3 linked regions of the Homo sapiens genome follow. The protein of the gene in region 1 interacts with the protein of each later gene in a pairwise test. Each region holds a gene or a part of one and is shown in the gene's direction. Other genes may lie near its edges. The genes, in order: PIP4K2B, TRPV2 and KYNU.

Evidence for each region.
Region 2: the proteins of PIP4K2B (region 1) and TRPV2 interact in a protein complementation assay, tested with the Homo sapiens proteins (one study listed by IntAct).
Region 3: the proteins of PIP4K2B (region 1) and KYNU interact in binary tests that used the Homo sapiens proteins (3 or more experiments, as listed by UniProt).

The regions. Positions count from the first base shown.
Region 1 is NC_000017.11:38,795,426-38,806,171, reverse strand, and holds the start of PIP4K2B (phosphatidylinositol 5-phosphate 4-kinase type-2 beta), read left to right. Parts: upstream 1-6,615; 5' UTR 6,616-6,747; coding exon 6,748-6,906; intron 6,907-10,746. Other genes in the region: pre-mRNA-splicing factor CWC25 homolog, read left to right, coding at 3,311-3,472, 3,966-4,080. UniProt on the Homo sapiens protein: Participates in the biosynthesis of phosphatidylinositol 4,5-bisphosphate. Preferentially utilizes GTP, rather than ATP, for PI(5)P phosphorylation and its activity reflects changes in direct proportion to the physiological GTP concentration.
Region 2 is NC_000017.11:16,430,473-16,438,779, forward strand, and holds the end of TRPV2 (transient receptor potential cation channel subfamily V member 2), read left to right. Parts: intron 1-1,311; coding exon 1,312-1,378; intron 1,379-1,493; coding exon 1,494-1,828; intron 1,829-3,101; coding exon 3,102-3,226; intron 3,227-4,417; coding exon 4,418-4,497; coding exon of another isoform or gene 4,498-4,505; exon of another isoform or gene 4,506-4,509; intron 4,510-6,316; coding exon 6,317-6,417; 3' UTR 6,418-6,531; downstream 6,532-8,307. UniProt on the Homo sapiens protein: Calcium-permeable, non-selective cation channel with an outward rectification. Seems to be regulated, at least in part, by IGF1, PDGF and neuropeptide head activator. May transduce physical stimuli in mast cells.
Region 3 is NC_000002.12:143,046,567-143,056,940, forward strand, and holds the end of KYNU (kynureninase), read left to right. Parts: 3' UTR 1-9,267; downstream 9,268-10,374. UniProt on the Homo sapiens protein: Catalyzes the cleavage of L-kynurenine (L-Kyn) and L-3-hydroxykynurenine (L-3OHKyn) into anthranilic acid (AA) and 3-hydroxyanthranilic acid (3-OHAA), respectively. Has a preference for the L-3-hydroxy form. Also has cysteine-conjugate-beta-lyase activity.

The DNA.
Region 1 (10,746 bases):
CCTGTAAGGGTCTGCGTCCCCTGCCTCCAGCCATGTGAGGACATTGAAAGGACGAGGTAAGGCTGGGCGTGGTGGCTCACGCCTGTAATCACAGCAGTTTGGGAGGCTGAGGTGGGTGGATCACCTGAGGTCAGGAGGTCGAGACCATCCTAACCAACACGGTGAAACCCCATCTCTACTAAAAATATAAAATTAGTTGGTCATGGTGGCACATGCCTGTAATCCCAGTTATTTGGGAGGCTGAGACAGGAGAACTGCTTGAACCCAGGGGTTGGAGGTTACAGTGAGCTGAGATCTCACCACTGCACAGCAGCCCAGGCGACAGTGCAAGACTTTGTCTCAAAAAAAAAAAAAAGTCTCTTAACAAAAACCAAGCCAGACACAGCAGTCCATGCTTGTAATCTCAGCGCTTTGGGAGGCTAAGGCAGGGAGGATCACTTAAGGTCAAGGGATTAAGGTTGCAGTGAGCTACGATCAAGCCACTGCATTCTTGCTTGGGCGACAGAGCGAGACCCTCTCTTAAATTAAACCCTCTTTAAAAAACCCCTCAATTATTCTCTCTGGGTGTGGTGGCTCATACCTGTAATCCCAGCAGTTTGAGAGTCCAAGGCAGGAGGATCGCTTGAGGCCAGGAGTTCCAGACCAGTCTGAGCAACATAATAAGACACTATCTCTACAAAAAATTATTTTAAAAACATTTAAAAAAACAAAAGCTAGTAGTTCTTTGCCCTGCCTGATCCCACTTTTAGTCATGCTACCCAAAGGCAACTACTTTCAGCTTTTTCAGTAGTTTCTTTTCATAGCTACATATTCCTAAAAATACAAATATGTTGCTGCCTCTTCATCCATTAATTTTAGATATTAGATATTTTCTTTTTTCTTTCTTTGTTTTTTTTGGAGACAGCATCTTGTTGTATCTCCCAGGCTGGAGTGCAGTGCCACAATCTTGGCTCACTACAACCTCTGCCTCCGGGGTTCAAGTGATTCTCCTGTCCCAGCCTCCCGAGTAGCTGGGACTACAGGCACATGTTGTCACGCCCAGCTAATTTTTTTTTTTTTTTTCTGAGATGGAGTTTCATTCTTGTTGCCCAGGCTGGAGTGCAATGGCCCAATCTCGGCTCACCACAACTTCCGCCTCCTGGGCCCAAGTGATTCTCCTGCCTCAGCCTCCTAGGTAGCTGGGATTACAGGCATGTGCCACCACACCCAGCTAATTTTTGTATTTTTAGTAGAGACAGGCTTTCTCCATGTTGGTCAGGCTGGTCTCGAACTCCCAACCTCAGGTGATCTGCCTGCCTCGGCCTCCCAGAGTGCTGGGATTACAGGCGTGAGCCACCACGCCCGGGCTTCCTTTTTTTTTTTTTTTTTTTTTGTCTCGCTCTGTCGCCCAGGCTGCAGCGCAGTGGCACGATCTCGGCTCACTGCAACCTCTGCCTCCCGGGTTCCAGCGATTCTCCTGCCTCAGCCTCCCGAGTAGCTGGGACTACAGGCGCATGCCACCATGCCCAGCTAATTTTTGTATATTTTAGTAGAGATGGGGTTTCACCATATTGGTCAGGCTGGTCTTGAACTCCTGAGGTCAGGTGATCTGCCCGCCTCAGCCTCCCAAAGTGTTCGGATTACAGGCATGAGCCACAGCACCTGGCCCTAATTTTTGTATTTTTAATATAGATGGGGTTTCAATGTGTTGTCCAGGCTGGTCTGGAACTCCTGAGCTCAGGCAATCCACCTGCCTTGGCCTCCCAAAGTGTTAGGATTACAGGTGTGAGCCACCGTGCCCGGCCAGATCTTAGATATTTTCTTACTGTTATAGTAAATAATCTGTTAGTGTAAATGAGCTCTCATACACTCCTAGTCCCATGTTTCTTCTATCCCTATCTTTCCAATATGGTTACATCAGAATTTTTGGTTCAGTGAGTATGTGGATTCATACTTGTATGATATATAAATATTGTTTACTGATACTTTTCATTCCTAAGCCAAGCAGAATATGGAGGTTACATTTCCTTTCTTGTATGATTTGTATATTTTTTCCTAGTGTCAGTATTTGCTTCCTGCAATCTAAACCATGTCTTTGAGTTCTAGGAAATTTTCTTGTATTATTTCTTTGATAACTTCTTTCTTCTCCCTACAAGGTCTCACTCTGTTGCCTAGGTTGGAGTGCAGTGGGGCGATCATGGCTTACTGCAGCCTCACACTCCCAGGTTCAACTGATCCTCCTACCTCAGCCTTCCAAATAGTTGGGGCTACACGGGTGCCACCATGCCCAACTAATTAAAAAAAAATTTTTTTTTTGCAGAGATGGGAGGTCTCACTTTGTTGCCTAGGCTGGTCTTGAACTCTTGGACTCAAGCAATCCTCCTGCCTAAGCCTCCCAAAGTGCTGGGATTACGGGCTAGAGCCACTGTGCCTGGCAATCGTTTTTGTTTTTTTTTTTTAAGCCTCCTACTCTCATTTGAATGCTCTAATATCTTTCATTTATTATCTGAAGCAGATTTTTAATAGTAAATTGTTTTTCGTTTGGAGGTTTTTATTTTTTTTTGAGACAGAGACTCACTCTGTCACCCAGGCTGGAGTGCAGTGGTGCGATCTTGGCTCACTGCAACCTCCGCCTCCTCGGTTCAAGCGATTCTCCTGCCTCAGCCTCCCAAGTAGCTGGGATTACAGGCACACACCACCACACCCAGCTTATTTTTGTAATTTTAGTAGAGACAGGGTTTCCCCATGTTGGCCAGGCTGGTCTCGAACTCCTGACGTCAGGTGATCTGCCCGCCTTGGCCTCCCAAAGTGCTGGGATTACAGGCGTGAGCCACCATGCCTGGCCCTATTTATTATTTTCTGAGGCTAAGTTATTCCTTCAGCTTCTGGCTTCTAGCTTAGTCCTAAAGTAGTGTACTCATGGGCTGTGTCATGAATTTCTAGTCTCCAATGGGTAGTTAGATGGTAGATGTTAACAGTTACATGGATAACCTAGTCTTCTGTTCTTCTGTCAATTGTTGAGCAAACCATTGGGATATAATTGCTACAAGTTTAGGTTCCTGATGAGTTCCCAATTTATTTCATATTTCATATTTCAGAATAATCACTCTAGAGATTACTGAGTGAGATTATGGAATACTTTACTAAAAGCCTTTGAAATTTGGATGAAACCTCCTGACCAGGACGTTAGAAGGGAACTCAGGCTGGCCTTGCACTTGGAGAGAGCAGTGAACTGGAGAGCTTGGGGTCCCACCTGGCTTCTGTGCTTCTTGTGCTGCTTCTGGTTTTTTTGCTGGAAGAGACCTGATCGTATGGTTTCTGTGCTCAACAGAAAACTCTCTGCAGAGGAATTAGAGCGAAAACGGCAAGAGATGATGGAAAACGCCAAATGGAGGGAGGAGGAGAGACTGAACATCCTCAAGAGGCATGCTAAGGATGAGGAACGGGAGCAGAGGCTAGAGAAGCTGGACTCCCGGGATGGGAAGTTCATCCAGTGAGTGCATCTTCTTCCTGCCAGGGTCTTTCATGGGGAAGGTCTTAAGAGGCAGGCTGGCAGCTGGTTCCCGTTCCAGTGTTTCTGTGTTTGCACATGGAGCCCAGCCTTCAGACCACCTTGGCTACTACTCTTCCTTTCTGACCACACAGTGGGATGTTTTTCATTTGAGGGGAGGAGAAGTGAATTTGGTATTTTCTAAATCATTGAAATTCCTTGACCTTCCTTTTTAATAAGAATTCATGGCCCAGGAAGCCTTTTTCCAATGAGGCTTTGACTTATTTTCCAAAACAGATACATTTTCCCTTATGGACACTGGTTTAAAAACATTTGGTTCCAGGTGGAGTCACTCGAAAGTTATCTATGGGAGCTTAAAAGAGGTTGTGTTTTTACAGCTGCTCTATGGCTAACAACCCATTTCTTCTGAAGCTGCCAGAATAGTTGACTGATTGAAAATGTTTTTGACTTGCATTTGCCTGTCTTCTCTTCCTAGCCGCATGAAGCTGGAGAGTGCATCTACTTCCTCCCTGGAGGATCGGGTGAAGCGGAATATCTACTCTTTACAGAGAACTTCGGTAGCTCTGGAGAAGAACTTTATGAAAAGATGAAAACTGTCCCCTCTCTTATTGGTTTTCCTGCATTTTCCAGGGAAGCTGCTGACCCCTTAATTCTCTTTATAAGAGTTCAAATGACTTCTTTCACAGATGTCAAACCACCAGTGTTCAAAGTGACCCTGCTTCATTGAGTCCTGAAACAGCTCACTTCCTTTGAGAGCTAGTGTGACTTGCTTTGTGGGACACTCAGTAACTTTGGGTTTTGACTCTTTAACGGGTGGGCACTGGACCATCTCGGTGGGAGTGCTTGTGCCACTCTGGAAGGCTGTTCCCTGGGGTTGTGATGTTTATCATGCCACTTCCTTCTTACCTGTGCCAACAGACCTATTTCACTGCCTCAGCGTACACCAGACCCTTCAGAAACCTCTCTGGTGTCACCCAGATAGATTGTGCTTACTGAGACAAATGAACGTTTACTTGATTTAGAAGATAATGTGACAGAATGATGTCAGGTTAGGTCAAAGCCAAGGGAGTGACAGAATCTGGAAAATCAAACAATACAAAAAGCCCTAAATGAACTGTTAACTATTTGATCTTTGGATGTAAAATTGTAATGCGTATATGTACAAATGTACAATTTTTACATGCTTTTAAAAAAGGTTAGCTTTGTGAAAATACCTTGTTTGGTCAATGACTTTACTGGGTAATAGAACCACATTGAACCTTGATGGCAAGTAATACAATAAGGCAGGCCAGCTCGTTTTTCTCTCTGAATCTGGCTGGTTTAGGAGGAGCCTGGGTTTATCGACGAGATCTGGAGTATCTATTCTTTTCCACTGCTTGCAGTCTCCAATGTAGGCAGTGTAAAGGTATAGTAAAATGATTTTAGGAGTCAGAACCAAATTGCCAATATGCTCCATGGCTCCTAAAGGAAAATAAAATGGAAGTTTTTATTTTGCGGCTTCACTTCTTACCGTGTAGTAACCTTACTACAATTACAGATTTTCAGGAGTTGTTTGCTAGTCTCTTTCAGTCAGGTACTAAAAAAAAAACAAAAAACAGGCTGGGCGCGGTGGCTCACACCTGTAATCTCAGCACTTTGGGAGGCTGAGGTGGGCGGATCACGAGGTCAGGAGATCGAGACCATCCTGGCGAACACGGTGAAACCCCGTCTCTACTAAAAAAATACAAAAAATTAGCCGGGCGTGGTGGCGGGCGCCTGTAGTCCCAGCTACTCGGGAGGCTGAGGCAGGAGAATGGCGTGAACCCAGGAGGCGGAGCTTGCAGTGAGCCGAGATTGTGCCACCGCACTCCAGCCTGGGTGACAGAGCGAGATTCCGTCTCAAAAAACAACAGCAACAAAACAAAACCCTCGAGGGGCCACTCTCCTGTCTTTACTCCTTTTCCCTTCTCTATTCTTTCACCAGAAGCCCTCATTTGACCAGTGAACTCCTAGGCCCTCTTGACCCGCACATTAGCTGGGCGATTTCCTTGTTCTGCTAATTCCTAATTCTGCTTAAAATGTATTTGGATTTCTGTTTTTGAACACTTATGATGCCAGGCACTGTAATGCTTGAAACCCGATCTTTCCCTAGAGAATGTAACATACGTTTTTATTCATTTAATCACTTCATTATGCCGGGGTTAATTATGTTTATTTTATAATTGGTAATAAAGGCCACATTTATTTTTGTAACTGTTTAAAGAGCGACCACCTGTGGAGTACCGTGTTTACGAATTTCCATGCAGAAAGAACAACGTTGACCTGTAATTTGTGTCGAATATATGGAGATCCCTCATCTGAGAATTATGTAACAAAGCGTGGGGCAGTTTACTCAAAGATTTTACGAAATGAGCCAGAGTAAGACGATTAGTGGGATAGGTGTCTGAAGGTGCTGGCGGCCTCTGAGCTCTGACCCTTTGCGGGGAGAACAGGCAGCAGGTGGGTGGGCGCGGGGCCCATTCATAAAAACCAGTGTTCCTGGCCTGCTTCTCTCATTGGCCCTGGGGGCAAGGGGCGTGCCCCGCGGGTGGAGCGCGCCCGGGGCCCAGCAGAGTGGGCAGATCCACGCTTAGGTGGAGCGAGGGGGCGTTCCTTGGCTTTCTAGGCTGGACTTTCTCTTCCCCTTGCTGCGTCCCTCCTCTCCCCCGGGGTGGGCATGGTACGTCCCGCCCTCCTCGCATTCCCGTCCCTCCTTCCCTTCCGGAGCGGTGGCATCGCCGCCATCTTGGCATTCGGGTTGCGGGAAAGAGCCAAACCCTGGCGTTGGGGGGCCCGGGCGGGGAGCCCCTCCCGCGGTCCACAGCGACGCCTGCCCAGCCCTCCTCCCCTTCCGGCTCCGGCACGGGGCCCCGAGGCGTTCGGAGGCCAGGCGGGTTTCTGTCAGGCCCGGGGAGGAGGGGCGGGCGGGGCGGCCGCTGCCTCCCCGGGACGGGCCGTACCACGCGGACGGGGAGGACGGGGCCAGGGGACTGCAGGGCGGCTGCACCGCCCGGGGGCGGGGTGCGGAGCGGGCCGGCGGGCTCCCCGGGGCGGGGCGGGAGGGCGGGGCGTGGGGCGGACGGAACCACCGGGGCGGGGTGGGAGGTAACGGGACGGGCGCGACCATGGCGCGGTGAGGGAGCGGGGGTGGGGATCGGTCCGGGGGAGGCCTGAGGCCGCTGGCTTGTGCGCTGTCTCCGCCGCCCCCCTCTTTCGCCGCCGCCGCCGCCGCCCCGGGCATGTCGTCCAACTGCACCAGCACCACGGCGGTGGCGGTGGCGCCGCTCAGCGCCAGCAAGACCAAGACCAAGAAGAAGCATTTCGTGTGCCAGAAAGTGAAGCTATTCCGGGCCAGCGAGCCGATCCTCAGCGTCCTGATGTGGGGGGTGAACCACACGGTAACCAGCTCCTGCGCGCCCCTCTGAGCGCGGCCCCGCGCGCTCCCACGCCCCCTGCAGCCCTGGGCCCTTGCCCCGCAGGCCCTGCCGGTGACGCCTGCCACCCCTCGCCAAGCCACTTGCACGCCCACCCCACCCTTGCACGCCTTTCGGCCCCGTGTGCACTCCCCGCACGCCACGCGAGGCCTGGTGTCTCTGTGGTCTGCCGTCGCCACCTCCCCTTCCCTCCAGCCCTTCTGGCTTCCTGCGTGTGGCGTGCTCGCTTGGGGCAGCCCATGGAGCGCAAAGGCAAGGCCTCAGTGCAGTGGAGTCGCTTTCATCCCTGCTTCTCCTCCTCCCCCCTCATCCTGTTTGTGAGGGTGTATATTCCCCCTTGTTCCTTACAGCCGGCTGCCAGCTCTGTCAAGTAGCAGTGGTCTGCCCAAATAGTCCTCTCTTTCTGATCGTTTGGTTGTTGTGGCTGCTCAAATTCTTCCATCCTCCAGGCCTCCTTACCTTTGAATGTAGAACTCCACCCTGGGTTTCCTTTTTTTTCCCTCTTGAACAAGATGTATCAACTGGAGAAGCACAGGCTTCCTTGAACCAGACACTTCACCTGGGTCTCTCTGGGTTAGGGAGAAGAAAGAATGGCTATTAACCATTTGAGAGAAGAGGATGCCTGGTTATAAGGAGGGACTATTCATAGTAGAAATAATATGTCTTCCCATAGTTTTTGAAGGTGATCATTTTAAAGATGTTGACTTATCTGTTGTGTGGCTGCAATGTTGTGATGATGCATAGTGATTATGGTCCTAGATAGGAGAGATAGGTCCCCTGGGTCCTTAGGGTGCTTTGAGATTGTTCAACAGCCCCTGCCAGGAAGTTGGATCCTGACAGTTTAAGCTGGAAGACTGTTTATGTGGTGTTTGTTCAGGGTCTTTATTCTCCCTCTTCCAACCACTTGCTCTTTGCCTTCTGACCATTTCTTTATGAATCCCCACACTAGGAATGAGCAGAGGAAGTAAAAGGACCCGAAACACCAACTTCACTAACTAGAATTTTGGAATAAGGAGGATCAAGCTTGGGTTTCCTGTGGATTTCAGTTCTTTAGGTTCACTTGTGAGTGCTTGAAATTGCTCACAAGACCAAGCGATGACAAAGAGGGCCAGCAAGACTTTGCATTGCTTTGGCAGAGGAGCTGAAGGTGCCTTTGGGTGGAGATCGATGAACCGTAATCTGAGCTAGGGTTTTAGATCTTGACCTGTCATTTAGGAAAGTGCATGTGTAAATTGAGGTCTCTGTGGTTTCTTGGTCTTGGGCAGGTTACTGTTTTCACTGTCATCACTGGTGTTAGTGAGGGTCCTGCCAGGATAGCGAGTACCAGTGGTATAATGCCCAGACCTCTAGGAGCTGCTTCGGGCCAACAATCCAGCCCAGTTTGTTACTCGGTCTTCCTGCTGTCCCAGGGGTCATCTGACAACATTTCTAGGGAAACTGGGTGATCAGAATATGAACCCCATGTCCCTTTCTGGAAGTCAATCCTTGATTTTGTTCTGCATCCTGCTTCTCACTCTACCAGGCCTCTCTCTGCTGGTTCTGTTTCTCACAGAAAGCAACCTGTCTGTAGAGAACTGGTAGAGGCCTGAGAGTCAGGAGTATTACAGCTAGCTGCAATGAACCTTGGGTCCCTTATTTTACACATGAAGAAAAGGAGGCCTCAGGTGGAGGATTAGCTTGCCTGTGGTTACAGCAAGAGATGTCGCTTATTGTCTAGCACCATGGGACTGTATCGGCCAAGGGTGGTGCCTGAGTGGCTGGTCTTGTTTTCTTTGCCTCCTGTTTCTTTTCCTCTCCCTCAGCCAAGTCTCAGGATAGATGCGAAGTATAGTCCGGTTAGAGAAGGTGAATATATGCTCTGGGTTATACGCCTATGCATGTCAGGTCCTGGGAGTGTGTGTGATGCATGGTGTTCCGATAGGCAGGCATGAGTCTGTCCATATGTGGTTATGAAGTTTCTCAATAGCTGATGGTTAGGTATCACGAGTCAGGAGTCCTGTGAGTCCTACTCTGTTGGACAAAGTGGTCATCTTTTTTCTTTGCTAACTTTAAGTTGAAAGTTTGTTTGAGGGGCTAGTTGGAAAGGCATTGACTTTAAGCAAGATCCGTGCCTCTGGACATAATGAACAGGCATCTCATGGGAACTTCCCACCACTGCCCTGGACAGGCTAAGCTTCAGAGGCCAGTTAGTCGTAAGTTTTATTGCTTCATCCTGGTCTGCAGTAAGGTCTGATACTTCAGTGTCCCCATTTGGGAACTGAGACATCTGCCTAGAAGAAGAGTGTAATCTTGCACTCGTCTAAGGGATCAGGACCACATTGCCCTCGGTGGACTGCTGCACTTTTTTGGAGATTTCCTCCCTTCAAAAAAAGCCTACTTTGTAACATTTTGTCATCTGAGATTTCAGATACCACCTTTTCTTTAGTTTCTCACCTGTTTAGGCATTTAGGCATGCTGGTCTGTGGCTAATGGTGTTTCAGATAGGAAGGATGGATATGTCTTTATCTACAGCAGAAGTTAGTTACCCTTTCATGAGGTGATTAGTTTACTTCTAGGTGGAAAAAGAGAGGACTTTGAACTTGGTGTTGTCACAGGAGCTGCTCTCATGGACAAGAGCCCATGGATTTTGTGGAGGAAGAATGTGTAGGAAACAAGGAGAAAAATCAGAAGACTTTGCACCTGTCAGGGAAGAACTAGTGAAGAGCAAAAACCAGTGTTTTAGTGGATGAAATACAGTTCCGAGGGTTTGGAATTAGGGAAGAGATGGCCTCAGAGAGGAGCATGGAGACCATGGGAGGTAGACCTGACTTGATACTTGTTGGCCATTTTAAGAACCAGGTATGTGTGAAGCCTTACCACAGGGATCAGAGGAGCAGGAGCAGTTGATGGTGACTCTGTATTTAACCATTTGAGAAACTGCCAAACTGTTCTCTAAAGTGGCTGTACCATTTTACATGTCTACCAGCAGTGTATAAGAGTTCCAGTATCTGCATCCTTGTCAACACTTGTTATTGTCTTTTTAAAGTTATTAAAGCCATTCTGTTGGGTGTGAATTCGTATCTCATTGTGATTTTGTTTGTTTGTTTGTTTTTGTGATGGAGTCTCACTCCGTCACCCAGGCTGGAGTGCAGTGGTGCAATCTCGGCTCACCGCAACCTCCACCTCCCGGGTTCAAGCAATTCTCCTGCTTCAGCCTCCTCAGTAGCTGGGATTACAGATGCCTGCCACCACACGTGGCTAATTTTTTTATTTTAGTAGAGACAAGGTTTCACCATGTCGGCCAGGCTTGTCTCAAACTCCTGACCTCAGGTGATCCACCTGCCTCGGCCTCCCAAAGTGCTGGGATTACAGGCATGAGCCATCGCACCCGGCCTCATTGTGACTTTGATTGGCATTTCTGTGATAACTAATGATGTTGAGCATTTTTTCATGTACTTACTGGCCATTTGTACATATTCTTTTCTTTTTTTTTTTTTCTTGAGACAGAGTCTTGCTCTGTCGCCCAGGCTGGAGTTTAGTGCCACAATCTCAGTTCACTGTAACCTCCGCCTCCTTGGTTCAAGCGATTCTCCTGCCTCAGCCTCCCAAGTACCTCGGATTACAGGTGCCTGCCACCACACCCAGCTAACTTTTGTATTCTTAGTAGATATGGAGTTTTACCATGTTGTCCAGGCTGATCTCAAACTCCTAACCTCAGGTGATCCACCTGCCTTGGCTTCCCAGAGTGCTGGGATTACAGGTGTGAGCCACTGTGCCTGGCCTGTACATTTTCTTTTTGTTGTTGTTGTAGAGACAGGGTCTCGC
Region 2 (8,307 bases), about 22 Mb from region 1:
TCAGAAATGCCTTCCTTTTTTTTTTTTTTTTGAGATGGAGTCTTGCTCTGTTGCCCAGGCTGGAGTGCAGTGATGCAATCTTGGCTCACTGCAACCTCCGCCACCCAGGTTCAAGCGATTCTCCTGCCTCAGCCTCCCGAGTAGCTGGGACTACAGGCATGTGTCACCACATCCGGCAAATTTTTTTTATTTTTAGTAGAGACGGAGTTTTGCCACGTTGGCCAGGATGGTCTTGAACTCCTGACCTCAGGTGATCCACCCACCTTGGCTTCCCAAAGTGCTGGGATTGCAGGCTGAGCCATCACGCCCAGCCAATTCCTTCCTTTGTAAGGCTGAATAATATCCCATTGTGTAGATACACCACATTTTGTGCGTCCATTCATCTGTCGATCCAGTCACCTGTTGCTTCCACCTTTTGACCATTGTGAATAATGCTGCTACGAACAAGGGTGTAAAAGTATCTGTTAGAGTCCCTGCTTTCAATTCTTTTGGGCATATACATACCCAGAAGTGGAATTGCTGGGTCATACAGTAGTTCTATATTTTATTTTGTGACCCTGGAAGGTTTTTTTTTTTTGTTTTTTGTTTTTTGTTTTTTGAGATGGGACTCATTCAGTCACCCAGGCTGGAGTGCGGTGACACGATCATAGCTCATTGCCGCCTTGACATTCTGGGCTCAAGCAATCCTCCTGTCTCAGCCTCCTGAGTAGCTGGCACTGTAGGCTTGTGCCACCATGCCCAGCTACTGGAAAGTTTTAAGCAGGAAAACAATGTGATCTGAGACATATATATATATATATATATATATATATATACATATTTTTTTTTTTTTTTTTTTTGAGACGAAGTCTCACTCTGTAGCCCAGGCTGGAGTGCAGTGGTGTGATCTCGGCTCACCACAACCTCTGCCTCCTGGGTTCAAGTGATTCTCCTGCCTCAGCCTCCTGAGTAGCTGGGATTACAAGCACAGGCACACCACTGCACCTGGCTAATTTTTTGTATTTTTAGTAGAAACGCGGTTTCACCATGTTGGCCAGGCTGGTCTTGAACTCCCAACCTCAGGTAATCTGCCCGCCTCAGCCTCCCAAAGTGCTAGGATTATAGGCATGAGCCACCGCACCCAGCCAGATCTGAGATATATTTTTAAAAGACTCCTCTGCTCGGTGTGGCTCCACAGGCCCACATATGCATATGTATGTGTGCGTATGTGCAGTGTACACGGGAACCATGCTGCTGTGGGTGAGGCAGGGTTCTGGGGTCGTGACTGGTGGCCCAGCTACCCACCCTGGCCCCTGGGCACATGTGTTCCAGGTCATCCTGCGGGACCTGCTGCGCTTCCTTCTGATCTACTTAGTCTTCCTTTTCGGCTTCGCTGTAGGTAAAGGCTCCCTCCGGCCCCCTCCCCCTTCCCCACGTTCCTTGTCCACCCTGTACACTCCCAAGGCTGCCCACCGGTCTCCTGGGCTAAGGACCCCTCTCCCTTCATCCCATAGCCCTGGTGAGCCTGAGCCAGGAGGCTTGGCGCCCCGAAGCTCCTACAGGCCCCAATGCCACAGAGTCAGTGCAGCCCATGGAGGGACAGGAGGACGAGGGCAACGGGGCCCAGTACAGGGGTATCCTGGAAGCCTCCTTGGAGCTCTTCAAATTCACCATCGGCATGGGCGAGCTGGCCTTCCAGGAGCAGCTGCACTTCCGCGGCATGGTGCTGCTGCTGCTGCTGGCCTACGTGCTGCTCACCTACATCCTGCTGCTCAACATGCTCATCGCCCTCATGAGCGAGACCGTCAACAGTGTCGCCACTGACAGCTGGAGCATCTGGAAGCTGCAGGTGCCACCAGAGAGGCTCCCTGCCCCCACCCCACCCCACACTCAGGCGGTGGGGAGTGCTCCGGACCCTGCGGAGCTGGGCCTTCCCTAGCCAGGAGATGCCGGGTTGGGCAGCTCTACCTTGTCAGTCTTCCTCTTCCTTTTTTTTTTTTTTTTCTGGAGACAAGGTCTTGCTCTGTCACCCAGGCTGGAGTGCAGTGGCACGATCACAGCTCAATGCAGCCTCGGCCTCCTGAGCTCAAGTGATCCTCCTTCCTCAGCCTCCTGAGTAGCTGGGGTTACAGGCACCTGCCACCACACTTGGCTAATATTTTTATTTTTTGTAGAGAAGAAGGTCTCACTATGTTGCCCCGGCCTCAGGTGATCCTCCCACCTTTGCCTCCCAAAGTGCTGAGATTACTCCCACCTCCTTTAAGCTCATAGATGTACTTAGGACAGTGCCCAGCACCAAGCAGGTGCTCAATGTGCTACCAGCTACTCTTATCATCATTGCTGTCCAGTGTTTCTTTTTTTTTTTTTTTTGAGTCAAGAGTTTTGCTCTTGTTGCCCGGGCTGGAGTGCAATGGTGCAATCTTGGCTCACTGCCACCTTTGTCTCCTGGGTTCAAGCGATTCTCCTGCCTCAGCCTCCCAAGTACCTAGGATTACAGGCATGTGCCACCACACCCCACTAATTTTTTGTATTTAGTAGAGATAAGGTTTCACCATGTTGGTCAAGCTGGTCTTGAACTCCTGACCTCAGGTGATACACCTGCCTCGGCCTCCCAAAGTGCTGGCATTACAGGCATGAGCCACCATGCCCCACCCTGCTGCCAATTCATTGTTGATCTTGGGGAAGCCCCTTATCTCCTCTGAGCCTTGGTGCCCTCCTCTGCAAGGTTCTGTGCCCCACCTGACTCACTGGTGTGCCTCTGGGCAGGCACATGTGTGGGGTGAGCAAATGAAGTTCTGTTCCTGGTGGTGTGGCAATCTGGAGCCTGGAACGATGTAAGAGCAAGTAGCTGTCCAGTACTCATAAGGTACAGACTTCCCATCAGCTGTCTGAGGCACTTTGTCCTCAGTCTACAAATGGGGAAACTGAGATGCAGAGAGGCTGAGGGCCCAACCCCACACAGGTAACCGGATGTTGGAGCCAGATTCGAATCCGCGTGTTTAGTTGACTTCGCGTTATACTGTGAAGTGCTGCGCGGCACTTCCCTGCTCCGCTTGCCTTGTGTGCCTTTGCCCCCAGGCAGGGTCCCAGGACGTTCTGTCTGATGCATCCTTTGTCCCCAGAAAGCCATCTCTGTCCTGGAGATGGAGAATGGCTATTGGTGGTGCAGGAAGAAGCAGCGGGCAGGTGTGATGCTGACCGTTGGCACTAAGCCAGATGGCAGCCCCGATGAGCGCTGGTGCTTCAGGTGAGTGAGTGGTGGGAGGGTCTCCTGGGGGCCTTGCTGTCCAGCAATCCCTGGGGCCCCCCTGCAGTGCAGGGCACAGCTGCCAGGAGCCAGGTCTGGTGGGAAGGGCAGGCCCAAAGAGCACCAGGGACTGAGCCTGAGCAGGTGAGGTCAGGGGTCTGGATCTCACAAGCCATGGCTGCCACATGACTGGCCATCTGCCTGTCCCAGTGGCTTAAACTGAAGGTCCCCTCCTGGTGATCTCAGACTCCTCCTTGTAGCCTGAAATGTGTTACGGTAAGGAGGCCAAGAAGTCAGAGGGACCCTTGGGTTGCTAGCACTCTAGCATTGCCCTGGCTGCTCTGTGTCCCCCCACCCCCAATTCTGCCAGCCTGATCTCTGAGCTACAACCCCTTCCATGGAGAACATGCCCTTCTGTGTCCAGGAAAGGCTGGGACACTGGGAGAGGGAACCTAGTGACAAACACACAGCTAAAAACAGACACTGTCGGCCGGGTGCAGTGGCTCATGCCTGTAATCCCAGCACTTTGGGAGGCCGAGGCGGGCAAATCACGAGGTCAGGAGATCGAGACCATCCTGGCTAACACAGTGAAACCCCATCTCTACTAAAAATACAAAAAAGTAGCCGGGCGTGGTGGCGGGCGCCTGTAGTCCCAGCTACTCAGGAGGCCGACGCAGGAGAATGGCATGAACCTGGGAGGCGGAGCTTGCAGTGAGCTGAGATCGCACCACTGCACTCCAGCCTGGGCGACAGAGCGAGACTCCATCTCAAAAAAAAAAAAAAAAAGAAAACAACAGCAACAAAAAAAACAGACACTGTCGTGAGGCAGCAGATGAGCAGAGAGACGGAGTCTTGGGCATGAGGAGCAGCCATGATAGGCCCCAGAACCCGGAAGCACAGATACACCTGATCTGAATTCCTCTTCTCTGGTTGTTCTGGGCAACCCAGGCTGCTGTGAACAGCCAGAAGCGATGGATGCTGATTCCTGCAAGTGAGCACCTGCCTCACAGGACAGGGCTCCAAGTGGGTGGCCCAGAACCCTGCAGAGAAAAAGCCTGTCCTCCTCAGGGCCTCTGTGTCCACCAGAGCATCTCTGCATAGTCTCCCAATTTGGGGGGCCACGCCCCTCTCCGGGGTGGGAGGGGAGGCGGTCAAAGCAGGCAAACCTCAGAGCTGCTCTGTTGCCCTCAGGGTGGAGGAGGTGAACTGGGCTTCATGGGAGCAGACGCTGCCTACGCTGTGTGAGGACCCGTCAGGGGCAGGTGTCCCTCGTGAGTAGCCTGGTGACTAGAGCCTCTGCCCTGGGGTGTGTGTCTCTGCTGCTTGGCCACAAAGCCTTGGAGAGTCTGGGGCAGGACCCAGAGACCTCCTCATAGTCCCTTTGCAGATCCCCACATGCCAGCTCCTCTTAGAGGGATTGCCTCCTTAAAACAGTGGTTCCCTCCTTTCCTTTCCACCCACACCTTGCTTTCAGGCAGGAACCAGGGGAAACCTCTGAGGCTGTTAGCGCTTCCACCAGCCCAGCCTCTGGCTGCCCTCTCTCTGATGCCAGTCAGTCACACCCTTTGCCCATTCAATTGGTTATCGAGGGTCTGTCCCCAGCCAGGCCTGGGCTGAGCCTGGGGACTCAGCAGGGGAATAAGTTAGGAAGGGCTGTGTCACAGCGCAGCCTACAACAGAGGCAGCATCTCCCTGGACCCTCAGAGGAACTGCCCTGCATAGGCCCTTAGTCCCTTCACACCCCAAGTCCCCCACCTCTGAGAAACCACTTCCCATGCTTCCTCCATGTCCGTGGCCTGTGTCCTCTCCGTTCCAGTGTAGTGATGGCCCCTCCTGTCCCCACCCTGCTGCCTCCACCAAGACTGGTTCCTTCCTCCCACCCTCAGAGGCCTGTTCTGAGGATTAGCTGTCCCCACTGCATACCCTTTCTTTCTAGAACCTTCAATAGCTCCCACCTTCCACTGGTTCACCTCCTCTCCTTTCTCCATCTCTTTCCTGACAAATTTCACTTGCTTGTGCCTGTTGCCCCCCACAATAGCCTCCTGAGTCTCCCATGGCCCCTGTTGTAGGGAGGCTCCTCTGGCCTCTTCTGCCCCACAGCCTGCTGGTTTCCCAGGCTCCTGGGCCGTGACCACTGCCTCACATACAGATAGGTTTCCCTTCACCTTCTCTTTGCATCTCCCTCTCTTCACTACAATGCCAGGAAAGTCACCTCTGAAAGTCACCTTGTCCCTCCCTCATCTTGCCCCAAGCACTCCACACCCCACTGCCTGCTGGGGCCTCCAATGTGACATTCCCAACAGGAACAGCCTCGGGGCTGCCCCAGCAGGTCACATGTATGTCACCCCACCCCCTCCTCACCCAGGTGGAAGGCCTTGAGAGTCTCAGCCTATTCCCCCCGCTATACCAGCTCTCCCACCTGGAGCTGAGTGTCCTTGACCCCTCAGGCGGCCACTCATCCCTCTGCCCTGCCCTGCCTCTTACTTCTGCACCACTGCAGGGGGGCCCAGCCTGCACTCTTACCCATTGCAGTCCTGCTAATGTGGACAAAAACCACATGCAGCCCACGCTACACAATGCCTCCCACTACCTGGAAGGCCGCACTGCTCAGAATGGAGGTCAGGGCCCAAAGCTGTCTAACTCACTCCCCACACCTCCATCCACATGTCTGCAGTACTCCTTGTTCTTTGCTTTCCTTGGTTCATCTCTGGATTCGTCTCTGTCGGAAGTGCTCTTCCTCCCCTCTGGATGTCCAAATCTGCCACCGCCCCTGCAGGACAGGTCCCCTCTCTCCTCTGAGCTCCCCCAGCATGTCTCAGGTGTTCTGATCTCTGACACACAAGTCTGTCACCTCCAGGCACTTTAAGCTCCTGGGGGTGGCAGGGGCAGGGGGAAGCCCCTGATATGGCAGGGGATTGGGAAATGCTTGTGGAGTGAGGGAAGCAGGGAGAAGGATTGCTGGCCTCCAGGATCGCTGAGGCTGTCCCCACGGCATGACGTGTTTTCATGACTGTGGCCCCGTTTCCCTGGTGCCTGCTTCCTGGGGACACACTCAAGGGTTAAGCTACAGTGCTTGCCATCTGTTTACAGGAACTCTCGAGAACCCTGTCCTGGCTTCCCCTCCCAAGGAGGATGAGGATGGTGCCTCTGAGGAAAACTATGTGCCCGTCCAGCTCCTCCAGTCCAACTGATGGCCCAGATGCAGCAGGAGGCCAGAGGACAGAGCAGAGGATCTTTCCAACCACATCTGCTGGCTCTGGGGTCCCAGTGAATTCTGGTGGCAAATATATATTTTCACTAACTAACTCTTCTGGAAACATTATTTGGGCAGAGTTGCTGGGACCCTTAGAGCTGGCAATGTCTGCATGTCTCTGTGTGCACAGGTCTGTGTATGGGACTAGGTTGCTCCTGCCCTTGCCTGGGCACAGAGACCCTCAGTTGCTGTGTCCCCACCCTCACCCCCACATCCCCAAGTCTGGGGACTGTCCTCTTCCTGGGTACAGGCAGCTGGCTGAGGTGCTGTGCCCATTGTTGTGGCAGATATATGGTGATGGACATGGGCAAACAGCCACCTCTCCTCTCTCTCCACCACGACACCCTTTGCTTTCCACACCCACCCTGCTTTTGGGCAGGTACCTGGGAAAACCCATTAAAGCCACCTCTCTTGCTTTCTCTTCCTACCGAGCTTCTTGCTCAATTCCCACCCCTCCCAAGCCATTCTCTGCAGGGCAGCCAGAGGGCCTTCCTAAGACATAAGACAAACATGTCCTCTTTGTGCTCTGAAGGCCTGAGAGGCTCCCCAGTACCCACAGAATGCCCTAGCTGACATCCCGAGACCCCCACGGTTTTGCCCAAGCAGTTCCAGACACCTCCTCCCCTCCACCTCTGTTGCCCCTCCCTCCTTAGCACTCTCCCCAAATTCATGCAGGCCGAGAGACCTCGTGCTTGATCCCTTGACCTGGCTCTTGCTGGAAGCCCCCCTCCTCCATTAAAACCCTACACTTGGGGGTGGGGGGAGGGATAGCATTAGGAGATATACCTAATGTAAATGATGAGTTAATGGGTGCAGCATACCAACATGGCACATGTATACATATGTAACAAACCTGCACGTTGTGCACATGTACCCTAGAACTTAAAGTATAATAATAAAATAAAACCCTACACTTGCCGGGCGCCTGTAATCCCAGCACTCTGGGAGGCCCAGGCGGGCGGATCACCTGAGTTCAGGAGTTCGAAACCAGCCTGACCAACATGGAGAAACCCCGTCTCTACTAAAAATACAAAATTAGCCGGGCGTGGTGGCGCATGCCTGTAATCCCAGCTACTCGGGAGGCTGAGGCAGAAGAATCGCTTGAACCCGGGAGGCAGAGGTTGCGGTGAGCGGAGATCGCGCCATTGCAGTCCAGCCTGGGCAACAGGAGCGAAATTCCGTCTCAAAAAAACACAAAAACGAGCAACAACAACAACAACAACAAAAACCCTACACTTATTTCTGAGGCCAGCTCAAAAGGTCTTATGATTGTCTTCCCAGTTTTTTGCAGTCAAAATGAATTTCTTTCCCTTGGTATAACGTGTGTGTGCAAAACGTGGTTGCATGGATTCTTTTTCAAGGAGAGAGCTGAGCATGTTCATAGGCTGAAAGGAAAGCCACAGTAGAGAGAGTTTTCCATGGAAGGTGAGGCAGGGGCATAGGTGGAGGAGGCCCCAAGGAATGAGGAGAGGAAAGGAGGTGGGCAGAGCTTTACCCCAGAGGCGAGCAGAGGATGGACGTGGATCTAGATAAGACGTCAGCTCGTTCCCTAAAGGTCGTGCTAAAGGAGTAATGAGGGTGACCAGTGCGCAGGGGTTTGAGAAGCCCCGTGGATGTGGTGAAATAGCTGTGGGGAGAGTATTTGGCAACGCTCAATAGATTCAGGAGGAGCTACTAGGATGAATGGCTGCCTTGTGCCACAGCTCTACAGGCTTTCACGTGTGTCATCTCACGTGATCTTCTGGGGCGCTGGTGTCTCCGTTTACTAGAGGACCAATCGGAAGCTTAAAGAGAATGAGTAATTGGCCCAAGACCACCCAGCTAAGGA
Region 3 (10,374 bases), on another chromosome or scaffold:
TAGATATGTAGATATATGAAAGCAATATATATATGGATGTCTTTCTGGGCTATCTGTACTTTCACACTGGCTAATTTGCTTGTTTTTTCATCAATACTTCACTTCCTTAATTACTACAACATAGCAGGGCCTGGCATCTGCTAGATTAAATCTCTCAGCTTCTTTTTATTAAGATTGCCCTGAATTGTCCTGGTTATCCTGGGCCCCCTACTTTTTTTATATTTTTGAATACATCTAAATAAATTTAGAATAAATCTATTGTGTTCCATAAAACCCCTGTTGGGATTTCAATTGAACTGCAATTAAATTTTAGATCAGTTTTGGAAGAATTGACTCAATAGTGAGCCTTCCTACCCAAGACCATGGCATTTATTTTCATTTATTTATGATTTCTTTAATGCTTCTCAAAATTTTTTATTTTCTCTATTATGGAAACGCACATTTATAGTTTGACAAATTCCTAAGTACTTCTAATTTTATTGTCATTCCACATTATCTTTTTTGTTGTTGTTTTAAAAGACAGGGTCTCCCTCTGTCACCCAGGCTGGAGTGTACTGATGTGATTATAGCTCACTGCAGTCTCAACCTCCTGGGCTCAAGTGATCCTCCCACGTCAGCCTGTGGAGTAGCTAGGACTACAGGCATGTGCCACAATGCCTGGCTCATTTTTAAGTGTTAAGTTAAAAAAAGTTGTAGAAACAGTGTTTTGCTACATTTCCCAGGCTGGTCTCAAACTCCTGGCCCCAAGCAATCTTCCTGCCTCAGCTTCCCATATTCGGATTATACGCATGAGGCATTGCACCAGCCCCATGTGTTATCTTTTATAAAATTTAACATTTAACTGATAATTGATACTGTATATACATGAATTCAATTGGTATCTATTTTTAATATGGGAAATTTTATGCAAATGAGCACATTTTTCTCCCTTCCTTCCTTCCTTCTTTCCTTGTTCTCTTTCTTTCTCTCTCTTTCTCTTTCTCTCTTTCTTTCTTTCTTTCTTTCTCACAGGGTGTCACTCTGTTGCCCAGGCGGAGTGCAGTGGCACATGATCATAGCTCACTGCAACCTCCAACTCAAACACTTGAGTGATCCTCTGTCCCCCGTTTCCCAAGCAGCTGGGACTACAGGCACATGCCACGATGCCAAGCTAATTTTTAAAAATAATTTTTTTTGTAGATTCAGAGTCTTGCTATGTTGCCCAGGCTAATCTCAAACTCCTGGCCTCAAGCAGTCCTCCCTCCTCAGCCTCCCATTACAGGCATAAGCTGCCACTCCTGGACCTCTTTTTTTTTTTTTTTTTTTTTTTTTTGAGGCAGTCTCTCTCTGTCACCCAGGCTGGAGTATAGTGGCACGATCTCAGCTCACTGCGGGTTCAAGCAATTTTCATGCCTCAGCCTCCCAAGTAGCTGGGATTACAGGCATGGGCCACTATGCCCAGCTAATTTTTGTATTTTTCATAGAGACAGGATTTCACCATGTTGGCTAGGCTGGTATCAAACTCCTGACTTCAGGTGATCCGCCCACTTTGACCTTCCAAAATGCTGGGATTACGTGTGAGCCACCAAACCCAGCCCCTCATTTTCTTTTTGATTTTTATTTATTTTCCTCTGTTTTTCTTCTTTTGGATTTAGGGATGTGTGTGTGGAGGTGTATTGAGTCCGTTTTTTCTTTCTATTTGTGTGGAAATTATACACTTATTCTTTGTTATTTTAGCAATTACTCTGGCTATTTTAACATGCAAATATAATGAAGTTTAGAATTAGCCATTTTTTATAACTCTCCTTCTGACTAGTTGAAGAAATGAGAATGCTTTAACATCAAACAGCCAACTCTTTACTTATACACTATTGCTATTCATTATAGCATTTTTAGTCTAGCTTCCTCCCTCCTCTTTCTCTCTCTCTCTCTCTGTCTCTCTCTCTCTCACTAATGTTTGCTATTTCTCCCTACAATTCAGAATTTTATTTATGGATGAAGTACATATATAATTTATTACAATTCATTTTAATGAAAAACTTTTAGTGGTAAATTGTATTAGTCTTTGGGAAAAAACATTTATTGATACCATTTTCTCATTACTTAAAAATAGTTTCACTTCATATAGAATTCTATGTCGACAGTAATTTTCTTTCAGGAAGTAGAAAATATTAAGTTACAGTATTTTGGCTTCCATTACTGCTGTTAAGCATTCAGATCATCAGAGAAATGCAAATCAGAACCACAATGAGATGCCATCTCATGCCAGTCAGAATGGCAATCATTAAAAAGTCAGGAAACAATAGATGCTGGTGAGGCTGTGGAGAAATAAGAATGCTTTTACACTGTTAGTGGGAATGTAAATTAGTTCAACCATTGCTCTTAAGGGCTCTTTGTCTTTAATGATCCGCATTTTTATTATGATGTGTCTAGGCAGTTATTATTGTGTTTATTCTATTTCTTTATTTGCTGTCTATCCAAGATTTGAGGATTAATTTTTTAATTTCTAGAAAATTCAGAAGTATTATTTATTTATTCAATTATTACCTCTTTCTATTATTTCCTTTTTAAAATAAAAGGGTATATGTTAGAATTTTTCACTCTCTCCTTTATGCCTTTAACTTCATATTTTCTATTTCTTTGAATTTCTGGGCTGCATTCTTAAGAATTCTAAAACATATATTTTAGTTTCTAAAAGTTTCATTAGATTTCTGTTCAAAATTCCTTCCATTTGTGATCTTTCGAATGTGCTTCTGCTTTAGGCATTAGTAGTGGACATTCTGGTTCCCCATTGAGCTTCCCTGCATCAGCTGTTTTGCCTGGTGGCTGCCACCAACGCTTTTAGCTACCTCCCTCCTCAAACTTTGGGGTCAGGCCACACACTATAAAGGATTGGAAAAAAAAATGAAAATATGAAAAACTTACACTTTGTATCAGTCAGGAGAAGGATAATCTTCACACTACAGTTTATGCTTCAGAAGCCACCCCTTCTCTGTGGATTAGACCATGACTAGAAGTTTCCTGAGACCATCCCTTGCCCAGCTCTTTTGGTGATCCCCTTCACTTCCTCTGTTACAGGTTTCCCTGATGAGCACTCCTTCAATAAAACATAGTCATCCAAATCCCAATCTCAAGCACGGTGTCACGGGAACCTGATCTAAGTCAGCATTTTCTTTATTCTTAATCACAACTAGTTGATAGTCCATATCTAATATATAATGAATGTACAGTTGTTTCTGTTGGAGTTCACATATGATGCCTTGTTTCCTTTGTAGTTTTGTGATTGATAGCTTCGAACTGCTCATTTACCTTGACCTTTTGAATTCTTTGAAAACTGAGTTAAGTCTGATTTTCCAGAGTTTTTATGTTTGCTTCTGTCAGTTGCAGAGAATCAATGAGAAGAACACTTTAAATTCTTGTTTTCGGTTTTTTTCCAATCACATAAGTAGGATTTACCTGAATATATATATAATATATAAACATATATTTATATAAAATAAAAACATATAAAATATGAAATATATAATACAGTATAAAATCTATTTTATGTAAAATCTATTTTATGTAAACATGATAATTAAATATATATTTAAATAATATAAATATAATAAATATTTGAAGCAATTGTATTTTTTAAAAATTTCTTCTAAAGAAAACCAGGATACATGTGCAGAACCTGCAGGTTTGTTACATAGGTATACGTGTGCCATGGTGGTTTGCTGCACCTATTGACCCGTCCTCTAAGTTCCCTCCCCTCACCTCCCACCCCCCAGCAGGCCCTGGTGTGTGTTGTTCCCCTCTCTGTGTCCATGTATTCTCGCCTCCCACTTATGAGTGAGAACACGCGATGTTTGGTTTTCTGTTCCTGTGTTAATTTGCTGAGGATGATAGCTTCCAGCTTCATCCACGTCCCTGCAAAGGACATGATCTCATTCCTCAATACTATGGCTACGTAGTATTCCATGGTGTATATATACCACATTTTCTTCATCCAGTCATGCAAATTTATATGAATGTCAATTCTTTTATAGTGATCTTCTGGGGCTATTACAATATATAGGGCTGTTTTTTTAAAACTAATTATATTTATTTCATGTTGCTTTAACTTATTAAAAAACAGACTGAAGAAAGACTGGGTGTGAAGTCAGTAAATTAATTTCAAATTAAATAAACTTTTCTACAGCTATTTTATGCTCAATAACTTTCTACTTATTCTTGAGTTCAAAACTATATGGGTTCACATTTAAATTATATAGTGTATTTTCTCCATAAACTGAAGTTGTTAGAACATTGATTTTTTTAAGTAAATGGATTTTTGCACCACTTCAAGAAAGAAACCTTCAAACAGCCTGGAAATATCACATCAATAAAGCACAACCTGGGAATCAAAGTATTAGGGTACCTTGTTACTGAGATTATGGATGTGATGCTTCTGTGGGCCATTAGCATGTGCACTGTGTGTATGATATGCTCTATGTTCTCTTCCCACTAATAATTTTATTTTTAATTTCAGCAAGATTTAGTCTCAAATAACACAATAATAATGGAGGTCATTGTGAAGTAGTGGATGTAAATAGATCTGATGTGGTTTTGGTTTATTGCAGTAATTGTTTTGACTAATTCTCTAGTTTTTCAACTTTTGATTGTTTAAGATGGTTCTTGAGTCCTTTTGACATGACCCTATCTATTTTTGATAACTTCATAGCCTTTAGTATAAAAACAGGTAGGCTTATATTACATATTTCCAACTTCAAACTTGTTATTTATTTATCTAAGACTATACAGTTCTTTTCAGAGAAAAACCTTCTTTATAAACCAGAATCTTAACAGGAAGAGTGCTCATTTTAATTGAGCTGATCATGTTTCTAGGATTTTTTAGTTAAAAGAAAATACATATTTTAAAAATATAAATTATATTTTTATTTCATAGTGGTATTTTCAATTTTGTCTGGGATAATAAGATGTTTTATTTAACTTGTTTGATTTTGTAGTTTTATCTTTGTGGGAAGGACCTGGTAAGAGGTAATTGAATCATGGGGGCAGGACTTTCCCATGATGTTCTCATGATAATGAATAAGTTTCATGAGATCTGTTGGTTTCATAATGTGGAGTTTCCCTGCAAAGGCTCTTGTCCTGTCTGTGCCATTTGAGACATGCCTTTCAACTTCTGCCCTGATTGTGAGGCCTCCCCCGCCATGTGGAATTGGGTCTTACTTTTGTAAATTGCCCAGTCTCAGGTATGTCTTTATCAGCAGCCTGAAAACTGACTAATATAGTAAGTTGGCACCAGTAGAGAGGGGCACTGCTGAAAAGGTACCCGAATATGTGGAAGCAACTTTAAACTGGGTAACAGGCAGAGGTTGGAATGGTTTGGAGGGCTCATAAGAAGACAGGAAAGTGTGGGAAATTTGGAACTCCCTAGAGACTTGTTGAATGGCTTTAACCAAAATGCTGATAATAATATGAACAATGAAGTCCAGGCTGAGGTGGTCTCAGACAAAGATAAGGAACTTCTTGGGAACTGGAGCAAAGGTGACTCTTGTTATGTTTTAGACATAAAGCAAAGAGACTGGAGGCATTTTGCCCCTGCCCTAGAGATTTGTGGGACATTAAACTTGAGACAGATTATTTAGGGTATCTGGAGGAAGAAATTTTTATGCAGCAAAGCATTCAAGAGGTGACTTGGTTGCTATTAAAGGCATTCAGTTTTAAAAGGGAAATACAGCATAAAAGTTCAGAAAATTTTCAGCCTGACAATGCAGTAGAAAAGGAAAACCAATTTTCTGAGGAGAAATTTAAGCTGGCTGCAGACATTTACATAAGTAACAAGAAGCTGAATGTTAATCACTAAGACAATGAGGAAAATGTCTCCAGGGCATGTCAGAGACCTTTGTGGCAGCCCCTCCCATCACAGACCAGGAGCTTTAGAAGGAAAAATGGCTTCGTGGGCTGGTCACAGGGTCCCTCTGCTGTGTGCAGTCTAGGGACTTGGTGCCCTGTGTCCCAGCAGCTCCATCCATGACTAAAAGGGGCCAAGGTACAGCTTGGGCTGTGGCTTCAGAGGGTGGAAGCCCCAAGTCTTGGCAGCTTCCATATGGTGTTGAGCCTGGGTTCACAGAAGTCAAGAACTGAGGTTTGGGAACTTACACCAAGATTTCAGAGGATGTATGGAAATGCCTGGATGCCCAGGCAGAAGTTTGCTGCAGGGGCAAGGCCCTCATGGAGAACCTCTGCTAGGGCAGTGAAGAAGGGAAAAGTATGGTGGGAGCCCCCATACAGAGTCCCTACTGAGGCACCACCTAGTGGAGCTTTGAGAAGAGGGCCACTGTCCTCCAGAACTCAGGATGGTAAATCCACCACGCACCTGGAAAAGCTGCAGACAATTCCAGCCTGTTAAAGCAGCCAGGAGGGGGCTATACCCTGCAAAGCCACAGGGGCGGACCTGCTCAAGGCTGTGGGAGACCACCTCTTGCATCAGTGTGACCTGGATGTGAGACATGGAGTCAAAGGAGATCATTTTGGAGCTTTAAGATTTGACTGCCCCACTGGATTTCAGACTTTCATGGGGCCTGTAGCCCCTTCGTTTTGGCCAATGCCTCCCATTTGGAGTGGCTGTATTTACCCAATGCCTGTATCCCCATTGTATCTAGGAAGTAACTAACTTGCTTTTGATTTTACAGGCCCATAGGTGGAAGGGCGATGTTTCTTTCTGGAGGCTCCAGGGAGAACTCTGTTTTCTTACCTTTTCTGGATTCTAGAGGCTTCCCACAATCCTTGGCTTAAGGTCCATCTTTAAGCTTTGTCTCTGATGAGACTTTGGACTGCGGACTTTTGAGTTAATGCTGAAATGAGTTAAGACTTTGGGTGACTGTTGCGAAGACATGATTGGTTTTGAAATGTGAGAACATTTAAGAGGGGCCAGGGGCAGAATGATATGGTTTGACTTTGTCCGCAGTCAAATCTCATCTTGAATTTCTATGTGTTTGGAGAGGTACCCGGTGGGAGGTAATTGAATCATGAGGGCAGGTCTTTTCTGTGCTGTTCTCATGATGGTGAGTAAGTCTCATGAGATCTGATGGTTTTATAAAGGGGAGTTTCCCTGCCCAAGTTCTTCTCTTGTCTGCCATCATGTGCGATGTGCCTTTCACCTCTGCCATGATTATGAGGCCTCCCTGGCCATGTGGAACTGTGAGTCCATTAAACCTCTTTCTTTTGTAAATTGCCCAATCTTGGGAATGTCTTTATCAGCAGTGGGAAAACGGATTAATATACTAATTTATAGCTAGTAGGTAAAAAGCCAGGGACTTGCCATTAGCGTTGGAAGTGGGGTTGTGGGGGCAGTCTTGTGGAACTGAGCCCTTAACCTGTGGGGTTGAATGATATCTCCAGGTATATCATGTCAGAATTGAATTCAATTAGAGGATACCTAGCTTGCGTTCAATGCAGAATTGCTTGCTGGTGAGGAGAAATCCCTATACACATTTTGGTGACCAGAGGTAAAGCATTTTATGTTGATTCTTGAGTGAGAGAGTAGAAATAACACTGGTTTTTTCCCTATGTCCTTACAACCACCAATTGGATACATTGTTTCAGTATTTTGAAATTTTTCATTTAATTTTTATAAATTTTCTTTTTAAATTTTAGATTCTACAATATCTCCAATTCTTCAGTTTATTCCCTCTTACTATGTATAAGTATTTCCCCAAGTTTCACTTTATCTTTCTATTACTTTTTTTACATAATAGAGCTATAAAGGCAATTCACAATTCTCTCTTTTCTCATATATAATATAGAGCATATTATAAATACTCTACTTTGGAAAATTATTCTTTATAGGAAATTACAGATAATATTTGATGAAGAAAATCGAATATAATCATTTTTCAATACTTAGGATAACAGATTCAGGCAAAGATAAAACATTAAAGGAAAAGTTAGTGAAAACTATTAATATATAGTGGAGGCATCACGTTGTTATGAACTTCATTGATCAATACTGATACCACTAAAAATGGAACAACATGTAATTATGTGCTCAATGTGATGAATATGAAGTAGACTGCACCACTCTGCAGTACAGTCAGGAAATAAGAAACCAAGTCCAATCAAAATAGCCCTAAAGCTACCTTCCAGTTTATAAAAAGTATGAAGAATAGAGGGGCAATTAAATGATACCATAAAGAGTCAAATACAGGGCATGCAACATAGCTGCTGATTGGATTTATTCAACATGTCAGTGGCATGAATACAATAGGAGGCAGGTAGGGAGAAGGCACTACCCTGAATTATGAGACTGAAGAGATATAATAAACAAATGCAATGTGTGGACTTGGTTGGGATCTTCATTCAAAGACCAACTATAAAAAGACATTGTTGTGAGAATTGAGGAAATTTGAATGAGAAATGTATTTTTATCTAATTTGTTAGCTGTGATAATAGTATTGTGGGAGTAAGAAGCTATTCATATTTCTATATATATATACCAAGTACATAGGAGTGAAATAATACAAAATCTGGAATTTGCCTTAAAATTCCTCTGCAAAATTATAAAAAAGAACGATGACAAACTAAAAAGGTGTAGTATTCTTCTATGGCTGCTATAACAAATGACCAAAAAACATAGTGACTGAAAATAACCCACATTTATTATCTTACAGTTCCATAGGTTAGAAGTTCAACATGGGTCTCATGAGATCAAAAGCAAGGCCTTGGCAGGGTGACGTTTCTTTCTGGAGGTTCCAGGGGGAACTCTGTTTTCTTACTTTTTTTAGATTCTAGAGGCTTCCCACAATCCTTGGCTTAAGGTCCATCTTTAAAGACAGCAACGTTTCATCTCTCTACCTATTCTTTCATCCTTACATCTTTCTCTAACTATTCCTTTTCTTCTGTCTTCCACTTTTAAGAGCCTTTTTGAGTCTATTGAGGCCAACTGGACAATCAAGGATTATCTCCCTATGTTAAGGTCAATTGATTAGTGACCTAATTCCATCTACAATCACAATTCCTCTTTGCCATATAATGTAAAATATTCATACCTCTAAGGATTAGGACATGGACATCTTTGAGGGTCATTAGTCATCTTACCACAGGAAGGAAGGAAGGAAGGAAGGAAGGAAGGAAGGAAGGAAGGAAGGAAGGAAAGGGAGGAGAGGAGAGGAGAGGTAGGAGGGAAGAAGAAAAAAATAGTATGAAAAAATCTTGATAAATTTGAAAACTGGGTGAATAATATGTGGAATTCTCTCTATTTTTGTTAATGTTGGAAAATTTAATAAAAACAATGAACAGTGATGACTTCGGTGAGAATTTATGTCACCTGCCTCAAAATTTATGACTTCAATAACACCTTGTATGTAATATTTTTCACCATATATTCTGATGTTGGAAACAATCCCTTCTGCCTTTGTATTAGTCCATTCTCACACTGCTATGAAAAATACCTGAGACTGGGTAATTTATAAACAAAAGAGATTTAATTGACTCACAGTTCTGCATGGCTGGGGAGGCCTCAGGAAACTTACAATTATGGCAGAAGGTGAAGCAGGCGCCTTCTTCACAAGGTGGCAGGAGAGAGAAGAAAGGAAAAGTAAAGGGAGAAGAGACCCTACAAAACCTTCAGCTCTTGTGAGAACTCACTATCACAAGAACAGCATGGGGGAAATCATCTCCATGATCCAATCACTTTCCACTAGGCCTCTCCCTTGACATGTGGGTATTATAATTCAAGATAAGATTTGAATGGGGACACAAAGACAAACCATATTATTCCACACCTGACCAAATCTCTGGTCTTCACTTTTCAAAATCATGCCTTCGCAACTGTCCCCCAAAGTCTTAACTTGTTCCAGCATGAACTCAAAAGTCCAAGTCCAAAGTGTCATCTGAGACAAGGCAAGATCCTTCTGCCTATGAGCCTGTAAAATCAAAACCAAGTTAGTTATTTCCAGGATACAATGGGGGTACAGGCATTGGATAAGTGCTCCCATTTTAAATGGGAGAAATTGGCCAAAACAAAGGGGCCGGAGGCCCCATGCAATTTTGAAATTCAACAGGGCAGTCATTAAATCTTAGAGCTCCAAAATTATCTTCTTTGATTCCATGTCTCACATTTGGGTCAAGCTGATGCCAGAGGGGGGCTCCCATAGTATTGGGCAGCTCCAACCCTGTGGCTTTGCAGTGTACAGTTCCCCTCCCAGCTGCTTTCCCAGGCTGGCATTGCGAGTCTGCAGCAATTCGAGGTGCATGGTACAAGCTGTCAGTGGATCTCCCATTCTGGGGTCTGGAAGATGGTGGTCCTCTTCTCACAGCTCCACTAGGCAGTTCCCCAGTGGGAACTCCATGTGGGGGCTCCAACTCCACATTTCGCCTTTGCACTGCCCTAGCAGGTGTTCTCCATGA